Regions from separate parts of the Homo sapiens genome. Here region 1 is linked to region 2. A link means that fine-mapping ties the variant in region 2 to the plasma level of a protein whose gene starts in the linked region. Region 2 holds a variant in brackets. A gene starts in the other region. All regions are shown on their forward strands.

The links. PIP is the chance, under the fine-mapping model, that this variant and not a neighbour inherited with it causes the effect. The UK Biobank Pharma Proteomics Project read protein levels with antibody pairs (Olink). The fine-mapping took linkage between variants from a reference panel, not from the people measured, so its PIPs are less certain.
Region 1: GP5 starts here. The variant in region 2 is fine-mapped to the plasma level of the GP5 protein (UK Biobank, PIP above 0.99).

The regions. Positions count from the first base shown.
Region 1 is chr3:194,397,367-194,402,732 of GRCh38, forward strand. GP5 (glycoprotein V platelet) reads right to left here and starts at 1,900. Exons shown (of 2, transcript NM_004488.2): 1 at 1,872-1,900; 2 at 1-918. The coding sequence starts at 916. It overlaps ATP13A3 (ATPase 13A3), which reads right to left. Exons shown (of 34, transcript NM_001367549.1): 34 at 5,311-5,366. RefSeq lists enhancers at 2,730-3,283, 3,284-3,836.
Region 2 is chr9:4,761,260-4,766,632 of GRCh38, forward strand. No RefSeq gene overlaps it. Among named protein-coding and RNA genes, the nearest start is that of AK3, 23 kb to the left of the region's middle. RefSeq lists an enhancer at 1,670-2,608. The variant G/A (reference allele first, on the strand shown) is at 2,232.

The DNA.
Region 1 (5,366 bases), not on the chromosome of region 2:
GCAGGGTGCGCAGCTGGGTGCGGTTCAGCCACAGCTCCTGCAGGCCCCCCATCTCCCCGAAGAGCACCCCCGGGAGCTCTGCCAGCGGGTTCTCGAACAGAGTCAACAGAGTCAGATTGTGCGAATGAAGAAAGAGCGCAGAGGGGAGAAACGCAAGGTGGTTTCTCGAAAGCGTCAAAGAACTGAGGTTTGGGAGCCGGTCGAAGGCCCCGGGTGCGATGGAACGGATGTGATTTCGGTGGAACTGCAGCTCCGTCAGGGCGCCCAGGCTGTTCAACAGCCCCGAATCCAGAGACACAAGGCGGTTCGAGTGGAGCAGAAGTCTCTCGAGCTTAGCCTGTGCTCCAAGCAACCCCTTGGGCAGGTGGGTCAGGTTGTTTCCCGATAAATCCAACAACTTCAGGTTCTCCAGATTCGTGAAGAGACTGGCAGGAAGGAAATCGAGCTGATTCTGGTTCAGAGCGAGCTCCTGCAGGTTAACCAGTTTCTGAAACATGTTTTGGTCAATGCCCCTTAGCGCATTGTGGTCCAAAAACAACTGCTCCAGGAGCACCATCTTATCCAGCAGCGCACCTGGAAGATGCGTGATTTTGTTGCGCGACAGCCTCAGGGTTTTCAGTTTTATCAGGTCACTGAAGGTGCCGGGGGCAACGGCGGAAATGTGGCTGTCGGAGATCATGAGGCGCTGCAGGACGGTCATGCCGCTGAAGCTCTGGCTCTGCAGGACGCCGCGGCCCATTCCGAAGAGCAGGATGTGCGTGAGGTTGGTGGGCAGGCCTAGCGCGGAGATGCGCGCCACGTCGCCCCCCGAGCACTGCGCGGCGTCCCGGAAGACACACTTGCAAGCTGGCGGACAGGGGAAGGGCTGGGCGCGCAGAAGCCCGAGCACCGCGCACAGTAGAGTCCCCCTCAGCATGTCTGAAAAAGCAACCGTGGGAGTGTGGTCAACACACAGGAGCGTTCGCGCCTGTACTGAACCCTGGGATCCTGCACTTTGTGCAGAGGCACAATCCTTTCGCCAGAATTCTCACTCCCTCTTTTCTTAGGACTACAGATTTCCCTACGTGGTGAAAAGACACTCATTCTACACTGCGTGGCCTCATGCTTTTGCTTTATTGATTTTCCACTCTCAGTTTAAAGCATTGAGATTACAGAGTTTTCAAGCTACCGAATAGCCAATACTTTAAAGTCCTTACATAGAGAATTAAAATAATCATTCTCACATTCAAGCTCACAGACATCACAAAGCAATGTCCATTGTGAAAACGGCTCTGCTCTTGACTTTATAACTTACCCTGCATTGGCTATAACCAACAGTCAAGAAGGGAACAGCAAAGTCTGCAGCCACCACCATCTGATTCTTTTGCTCACAATCATGCTATTTCCACAGTACCAAGTTACTCTATTAAAGGACACCCCCAAAACAGCGAACACCTTCAATCAACAGCCAACAAAAGCATATAATAATACCTATCACTTTACGCCATGCATTGTTCTCAGCTCTTTATTTATACTACATGCATTTAATCCTTACAATAACCTTAGGAGGTAAGTATATTATCCCCGATTCAAGGATGAAGGCACAGAGGCACAGAAAGGCTCAACAGTATAACTAGGGTCACATAGAATTTGAGGGTAGTATTTCTGACTTAGCCATAAAGAGCTACTATTTCTAAGATGCTTAACTAAAGGTAATACTCACGGCACTGAATTTTCTGGGAAATGCACACCATACTACTAACCTGCCAAAACAATGTTTCCTAAGCGAAATTTTACATAAATTGCTTCTCGTGCAATTTTACTTCTCATGCACACACAGACTAAAGAGCCCTCTAATTTCCTATACTAATGTTTAAAATATTTGGCCTTACCTGAAATGGTTCTGCACTCCAAAGTAACTGAAAGACTTAGAGCTCTGCATGTGATTCGACACTTTCCACAGGAAGAGGGTGGTATCCTTGCATCCTGAGGATAAAGACTTTACCAGAGTAGGTCAGGAAAGGACCCTATCTCAGAGCCCTTGTTCTGGTTTTTAATGACAAATATCTTCAAACCGAGAGACCATATATAACCTGATTCCTACTGTCAAAGCCAAGAGCAGTGGGGAGAGTTTTTCCATAAATGGCACAATATAACTCTATGATGCCAGGGAAGTTCAGTGATACAGCTGGATCACTGCAGTAGCCACACCCCTAGATGGGCCACACTTCCCCTGGGTCTTCCTTTTCATGCCACATGGCCCTAATTTCCCACCCAGGTTTTTTTTTTTTTTTTTTTTTTTTTTTTTTTTTTTTTTGGTATGTGTTGTTTTTCTTTCTCCGCTTAGCAATAAAGCTAAGAACATTCTCAAATCCTCCATTTTTTTCTTCCTTTTGGGACTAATAAGGCTAAGAACATCTTTGAACTTGTTCAACAATGGCATTGCTAGGTTGCAGGATGCTCACTTGTTGTTTTTTTGGTGGGGGAGGGGGACTCTGTCGCCCAGGCTGGGGTGCAGTGGTGCGATCTCGGCTCACTGCAACCTCCTGCTCCCTGGTTCAAGCAATTCTCCTGCCTCGGCCTCACAAGTAGCTGGGATTACAGGCACACACCATCACGCCCAGCTAATTTTTTGTATTTTAGTAGAGACGGGGTTTTACCGTGTTGCCCTGGCTGGTCTTGAACTCCTGAGCTCAGGCAATCCGCCCGCCTCGGCCTCCCAAACTGCTGGGATTACAGGCATGAGCCACCACGCCCGGCCGCTCACATGTTCAGTTTAACTGGGGAAAGTCAAACTGCTCTCCAAAGTGGTTGTGTTGGTCTACGATGACACCTGCCATTTGTGAGAGTTCCTGTGCTTCCTCTCTGCCCACACGTGGCACTTCCTGCTTTTTGCCATTTCTATGAAAGATATCTCAGCATGATTTTAACTTTTCCTTTCCCTGTTTAATGATGAACTTGAACACCTTTTCACATAATTAAGGCCCACTTGTGCTTCATTTGAGAAAGCTGGGTTTCCTTTTGCCCATTTGTCTATAGGCAAAACGTGTCTACGTGTCTTTTGAACACACTGATAATGCTGTCTGCATTAAGACTTCCGGCCAGCCGCCCTGTCCGGGAGGGAGGTGGGGGGGTCAGCCCCCCGCCCGGCCGGCCGCCCCATCCGGGAGGTGAGGGGCGCCTCTGCCCGGCCGCCCCTACTGGGAAGTGAGGACCCCTCTGCCCGGCCAGCCGCCCCATCCGGGAGGTGGGGGGCGCTTCTGCCCGGCCGCCCCTACTGGGAAGTGAGGAGCCCCTCTGCCCGGCCACGACCCCGTCTGGGAGGTGTGCCTAGCGGCTCATTGGGGATGGGCCATGATGACAATGGCAGTTTTGTGGAATAGAAAGGCGGGAAGGGTGGGGAAAAAATTGAGAAATCGGATGGTTGCCGGGTCTGTGTGGATAGAAGTAGACATGGGAGACTTTTCATTTTGTTCTGTACTAAGAAAAATTCTTCTGCCTTGGGATCCTGTTGATCTGTGACCTTATCCCCAACCCTGTGCTCTCTGAAACATGTGCTGTGTCCACTCAGGGTTAAATGGATTAAGGGCGGTGCAAGATGTGCTTTGTTAAACAGATGCTTGAAGGCAGCATGCTCGTTAAGAGTCATCACCACTCCCTAATCTCAAGTACCCAGGGACACAAACACTGCGGAAGGCCGCAGGGTCCTCTGCCTAGGAAAACCAGAGACCTTTGTTCACTTGTTTATCTGCTGACCTTCCCTCCACTGTTGTCCTATGACCCTGCCAAATCCCCCTCTGCGAGAAACACCCAAGAATGATCAATAAAAAAAAAAAAAAAAAAAAAAAAGACTTCTATCCTTCAAGACACCATAAAAAAGGGGAAAAGATAAACCACAAACTAAAGATATTTGTAACACCTATAGCTGACAAAGGCTTAATGTCAGAAGATATAAAGAATCATGGGATCCAATCCCCTTTGATGCAGCCTAATGCAGTCAGAGCCCAGTAAAGGCTGGGTTGACTGAAATTACCTTCAAAGTCACGCAGCCCTGGACCACAGGGAAGAGCCACTGCCTCTGCCAGGTATCGCGGGAGGTCTTTCAGTTCCGATCAAGGAATGCAACTCCAGAGCCCTGAACTGCTACACTGGTGACCTGGTAAGTCCGTCATGCATAGGCACATCGAGTGAAAGCCTCCCCGCCCCCTTGCCCATGAAATTGCCAGGGAGCCAACATGACAGACTGGGAAGGCGAGCTGTGAAACAGAGTAAGATGCCGATGGCTCAAATTCCTGTGGCCCTTCTTTAGCCTATTTCCCCAGGAAAACCTCCAGTCAGAATGGCCTCTACATTTTGTCCCTTAGGAAGACACTTTGATTGTCCAGGAAGGGAAAAGTAGGTATGGCAGTTGCAGAGTGGGGGAACACTCTTAGTCCATCCACTGAGCAAGTTGATGAGGTAATGAGAAGTATTTGGAGCAAGGAAGTTGACAGCTCCAGTGCTTCCAAGTCTTAAGATTCTGTATCCATTACCAGGTCAGAAGTCTGCTGTAAAACAGTTACCTGGCTTAAGGGGCTTGGCTATTCAAAAGCAGGTCTGTGCCTGGGTGAGATAAGCCTTTTTCCTCTGAGGGAGACTCAGTGGGCCGGGCACAGCAGGGAGCAACCACACCCCAACTTGGACCACGGACAGTCTCACTCAAGCCCCTAGGACTCCCTGTCCCTTGGCAGTGATACAGCGGAAGGAGAGACATGCAGAACTGTGCCCACACCAGCAGGCTGTGGGGACAGGATCACACATGCCGCACAAACCATAGCGACTGTTAAGAACTTGAGCTAAAGGCAGGCAGGCCCTCACCCCCCGAATTCATCACACCACAGCCAGCCACATATTCCCTAGCAGGGGCTCCGTGTCTCCCGGAGCTGAGCTCCATGGAAACAACTCCCACCCACACACAAAGGTCCTGTCTTCTCTGGGATTTTTACAACCATTTTCTCTCTCCATGGTATTAGCTTTTGGTTTGATTCTCCCAACTATTAATAGATTATAAGTCCCTACTCTTCTATTTCATTTCACCATTGCCCTCAGACCTCCTCGCATTTAACATTTGGCTCTACACTGCATCCGACTGTGGGGTTTCCCCAGGATGCTCACACACATGGCATGATATGCAGAATGTTGTTCTTATTTCCTTCAAAATCCAGTTTTTTTTAAAAAAAAAAAAGAAGGAAATGGGGAAGTATTATTAGGCAGGAAAATAAATCCACAAAGGGCAGTATTCATGTCACTAAAAAGCAAACAAATGAATAAAGACACAGAAAAAAAGTGTTATTTCATTCATTAAAATTTTTATTTTGAATAGCTTCAATCAAAAAAGGTTTCATAAG
Region 2 (5,373 bases):
CCTGCCTCAGCCTCCCGAGTAGCTGGGATTACAGGCGCCCACCACCACACCTGGCTAATTTTTGTATTTTTAGTAGAGACAGAGTTTTGCCGTGTTGGCCAGGCTGGTCTTGAAACTCCTGACCTCAAGGTAATCCTCCTGCCTTGGCCTCCCAAAGTGCTGGGATTACAGATGTGAGCCACTGTCCCTGGCCCCAGGCCCTTCATTTTCTGACACTGCCACATTCTCCTTCCTTCCAGCCTCCCACACTGCTCTCAGGGCCCATGGAGTTTCATGCCCTCTTAACTTCCATATTTTATGCCCTATGTATGATTCCCCTGCTCCCCTTCTTCATCTCACCAACTTTTATTCATCTAGAGTCTTACCTTCTGGGAAGCCTTCTCTATTCTTTTCCTTAGTCTGATTAGGCATCCCTTCTCTGTGTCCCTAGCAGACCTGTTCATACTTTGTGGCATTTGCCAGATTACATTGCAGTAACAATTCCAGACTGCAAATTCCAGTCTGCTTCTCCATCTTTAGTTCCTCTCAACATGTTATTTGTGAACTCTTTGTTTCAGAATCACCTGAGGAGTTTAAACACAAGCTCCTGGGACATACCCCAGACCCACCAACTCCGAGTCTTTGCAGGGCAGAGCCTAGGAGTCTGCATTTTAAAACTTTCTCAGCCAGGGGCGATGGCTCATGCCTGCAATCCCAGCACTTTGGGAGGCCTATACGGGCAGATTGCTTGAGTCCGGGGGTTCAACACCAGTATGTGTAACATGACGAAACCCTGTCTCTACGAAACAAAAACAAAACAAAAATTAGCCAGGCATAGTGGCTCCCGCCTGTGGTCCCAACTACCTGGGAGGCTGAGGCAGGAGGATTACCTGAGCCCACGAGGTCAAGGCTGCAGTGAACCGAGATTGCACCACTGCACTCCAGCCTGAGCAACTGAGCAAGGTCAAGTTTGAGAGCCACCACACTAGACAGGAAGTGGTCATATTTTCTTAGACCTTTAGCATCTACCATAAGCACACAGAGAATGGACTCTGAATGAAAGAGTCTAGAGCTTGAAAGGGAACTGAAATTTAAAAATAAAAAAGTGTGAAATGATGGCTGGGCACGGTGGCTCACGCTTGTAATTTCAGCACTTTGGGAGGCTGAAGCGGGCAGACCACGAGGTCAGGAGACCGAGACCACCCTGGCTAACACGGTGAAACCCCGTCTCTACTATAAATACAAAAAATTAGCTGGGCGTGGTGGCACACGCCTGTAGTCCCAGATACTCAGGAACCTGAGGCAGGAGACTCGCTTGAACCCGGGAGGCGGTGGTTGCAGGGAGCCGAGATCATGCCACTGCACTCCAGCCTTGGCGACAGAGCGAGACTCCATCACACACACACACACACAAAAAGGTGAAATGAGCAGCATAACGTTGGAATGACAGGTGACTATTTCCTGCCAAGATTCCAGTTGCCATCAGGTGGCGCTGTGTCAACAACAAATGCTTTTACCTGAAGCGAGGAGGAAGTTTGGTTGATTTACTCGAATTCAAGCCTCAAATACTACATAACTGAATTTATTTTTTCTTACTCCGTTTGTTTGCAATTGTCCCACTTGTATGAATACATTGATTTTTTTTTCTCACCTGGCCCAGAACAAAGCTGAGTAAATTGATTTCTTAAGGCATGAAGCCTTAGACAAGAAAAGCCGTGGAAGGAGGCTGGTGGCAGCAGACAGCTGGGCAGGTCATGAAGGTCAGGGGAAGGAAATTAGCAATTACCCTTATTTCCATCTTCAGTGAGGAAAACCTGCTCCCCACCAGCACTGCCTGTTGTGAAATTACCCAAGCATTCAAATGAATATGTCATTTCGCGAGGGTGGAGCCATCCTGTAATTTCTGTCATCCAGTTCCCTTTACGGGTTGTTAAATGTCTACGTGAGTAACCCTTGAATGTCGTTGCTCTCACAAACCAAAGTCTGGAAGCCCGAGTCTTTCTTCTGGGTTGAGTACTTTATTCTTCTGAGGTGTGGGAACTGAGGCACAGCAAAGGCCTGAGGCCCCACGGGCAACTCTTTCTCCCCCTCCTCCCTCCCCTCCGCGCAGGGCATCCCCGTGCACAGAACTGATAGAGCTGGCCTGGCTACTGGCAGACTATCAGGCCAGGCCAGAGCTGGAGGCTGAGCTGGTTTCCTCCGGGCAGGACAGAGCTTTCAGGCAGCGACCTCCTAGGAGGAAGGCGGGGGGA[G/A]GGTTTGCAGCCTTCCCTACTCTGGGCAGACAGAGGAATGTGGTGGACAGGAAAAAGGGGGAGGAGGCAGGACCTCTACTCTCAGCATAGACCCAGTCTCACTGAAGAGGCACTCTTTAAAGGCATCACAGAGTTTAAGAATAGTGCATGGTAGAAATAACTCTTAATTTCTGAATGACCAAGTATAAATGAAATGGAAGTGCTTAAAAGTAATAAGAGAAAAGCTATATAGTTCCTCTTTTCCTTCCTTGAAAAATCAGGTGCAAAAGTCATCAGGTGCAGGGTCGAGCAAGATAGGCAGCTATGAGTGGGGTGGAGGTGAGCTGTGGTGGCCGGAACCTGACCAGGATCAGAAAGCATACATTCAGGGGCAAGTCCAGGCCAGAGTGTCAGAACCCAATTGTGGTGAGGGGTGTCCCGGCAGAGAGGCAGTCTGCCACAGGGTGTTGGAGTCCCAGTGGGGAGAGAAAGGTATCTCCAAGGACATGTATGTAAATGTACAATATTAAGGATAATGGGAGCAAAGTTTCTCGCTGTTGGAGAAGACAGTTAACAAATCATTCCTGTAATCCCACCACATTAAGAGGCTGAGGCAGAAGGATTGTTTGAGGCCAGGAGTTTGAGACCAGCCTGGTCAACATAGCGAGATCCCGTCTCCACAGAAATTAAGAAAACATTAGCCAGGTGTGGTGGCATGCACCTGTATGCCATCTCAAGGAAAGAGGCTGAGGTGTGAGAATCACTTGAGCCCAGGAGATTGAGGCTGTACTACAGCCTGGGCAACTGAGCAAGACCCCATCTCAAAAAAATAAATTATGGACAGAAAACTAGAATGAAAACTGTGTTAGGTTGGAATGAGAAGTATTGGTATGAAGTCATGGTTTTCAATAAACAAACTAATAAGATCCATATTTTATTACGTATGTAGAGAAATATAAGGGTAAATGCATGTATGATTTTGTGTATGTGTGTACACACATCCTTATATTCCCTACTTCTGTGCCCTGAGAGGGCCTGAGATCAATGATGCCCAATACTGGTTTCTATTTATTTTATTTTTAAAAAATAGAGATGGAGTCAGGCTGGGCATGGTGGCTCATGCCTGTAATCCCAGCACTTTGGGAGGCCAAGGTGGGCAGATCACGAGGTCAGGAGTTCGAGACCAGCCTGGCCAACATGGTGAAACCCCGTCTCTACTAAAAATACAAAAAATTAGCTGGGAGTGCTGGCACGTGCTTGTAATCCCAGCTAATCGGGAGGCTGAAGCAGGAGAATAACTTGATCCCAGGAGGTGGAAGTTGCAGTGAGTGGAGATCATGCCATTGCACTCCAGCCTGGGTGACAGAGCAAGAACCTGTCTCAAAAAACAGAGATGGAGACTTGTTATGTTGGCCAAGTTGGTCTTGAACTCCTGGCCTCAAGCAGTCCTCCCATCTCAGCCTCCCAAAGTGGTGGGATTACAGACATAAGCCACTGTGCCTGGTCCCAAGTCTGGTTTCTCTTTCTGTTTTTTTTTTTTTTTTTTTTTTTTTTTGAGACGGAGTCTCACTTTGTCGCCAGGCTGGAGTACAGTGGCACAATGTCGGCACACTGCAAGCTCCGCCTCCTGGGTTCAAGCGATTCTCCTGCCTTAGCCTCCTGAGTAGCTGGGACTACAGAAGCGCACCACCATGCCCAGCTAATTTTTGTAATTTTAGTAGAGACGGGGTTTTACCATGTTGGCCAGATGGTCTCGATCTCTTCACCTCGTGATCCGCCCTCCTCGGCCTTCCAAAGTGCTGGGATTACAGGCATGAGCCACTGTGCCCAGCCATGGTTTCTGTTTTTTGTGTGTGTGGTTTTTTTTTGTTTTTGAGACAGAGTCTCACTCTGTCACCCAGGCTGGAGTGCAATGGTGTGATCTTGGCTCACTGCAAACTCCACCTCCCGGGTTCAAGCGATTCTCCTGCCTTAGCCTCCCGAGTAGCTGGGATTACAAGTGCCCACCACCACTCCTGGCTAATTTTTGTATTTTTTAGTAGAGACGGAGTTTCACCATGTTGGCCAGGCTGGTCTCAAACTCCTGACCTCAGGTGTTCCACCCGCCTCGGCTTCCCAAAGTGCTGGGATTACAGGCATGAGCCACCATCCCTGGCCCCAATCCTGCTTTCTAAATATCATTCTTCACTTAACAGGAACCAAGACCCCTTAAGAGAAATGGTTGATTCTAGGAGTTAATAAATGAAAAGTAAAAGATGAGTCTGGGATAGCTTCTGGTGTCAGAAAGTAAGAAAGTACTCAAAGAAGGACACTGAAACCAGCCTGAAATTTCCTGCTGGCCAAATCTGAGACAATCTGAACATCAAACTTAATAATGATAGTAATATAACCCATTGATAGTAATATGCCCATTGAATAATTTATAATTCATGAGTCCCTATTGATATAAAGTGATATAAGGATTAATTTTGAAGAGGAATGGAAAATTTACATATTATCAAAGTTCTTCCTTACAAAACATCTTTTTGTTACAAAGGAAAAGCGAGTAACTTCACAGCCAAGAAGCACAGTAGATGCCACCTTAATGAAATGATCAAAGTTAACATCATTAGTAATAGGACATATTGAAGTGTGGATCCAATGAGAAGAACACATGACCTCTTTTGTATTTCTGTCAAAGATACATAACCTGCATTTAATCATTAGAAAACATGAGACAGACCCAAGCTGAGAGATATTATATAAAACAATTAGTCTGTAACTGCAAAAGAGTCAAGAGTCACAAGAGTCAAGAAAAAAACTGAGGAATCTTTCTCATTTGAAGGAGACTAAAAGAGCTATGACAAATAAATGTAACGCATGATTCTGAATTGCACTCATTTGCTATAAAGACACTACTGGGACAGTTTGTGAAACCTGAATGAGTTTGAGAATTATACTGTAACAATGCATCAGTGTTAACTTCCTGATTTCGGTAGGAAGAGTGTCCTTGTTTATAAGAAAATGCTAAAGTATTTAGGGGCCACGGACACCATGTTGGTAACTTATTCTCAAAGAGATGAGGAGAAAAAAGTCTTTTGTTCTATGGTTTCAAATTTTCTATAAATCGGATATTGTTTGGAATAAAAATACACTGTTAAGAAAATAAAGAGAAAGAAAGAGT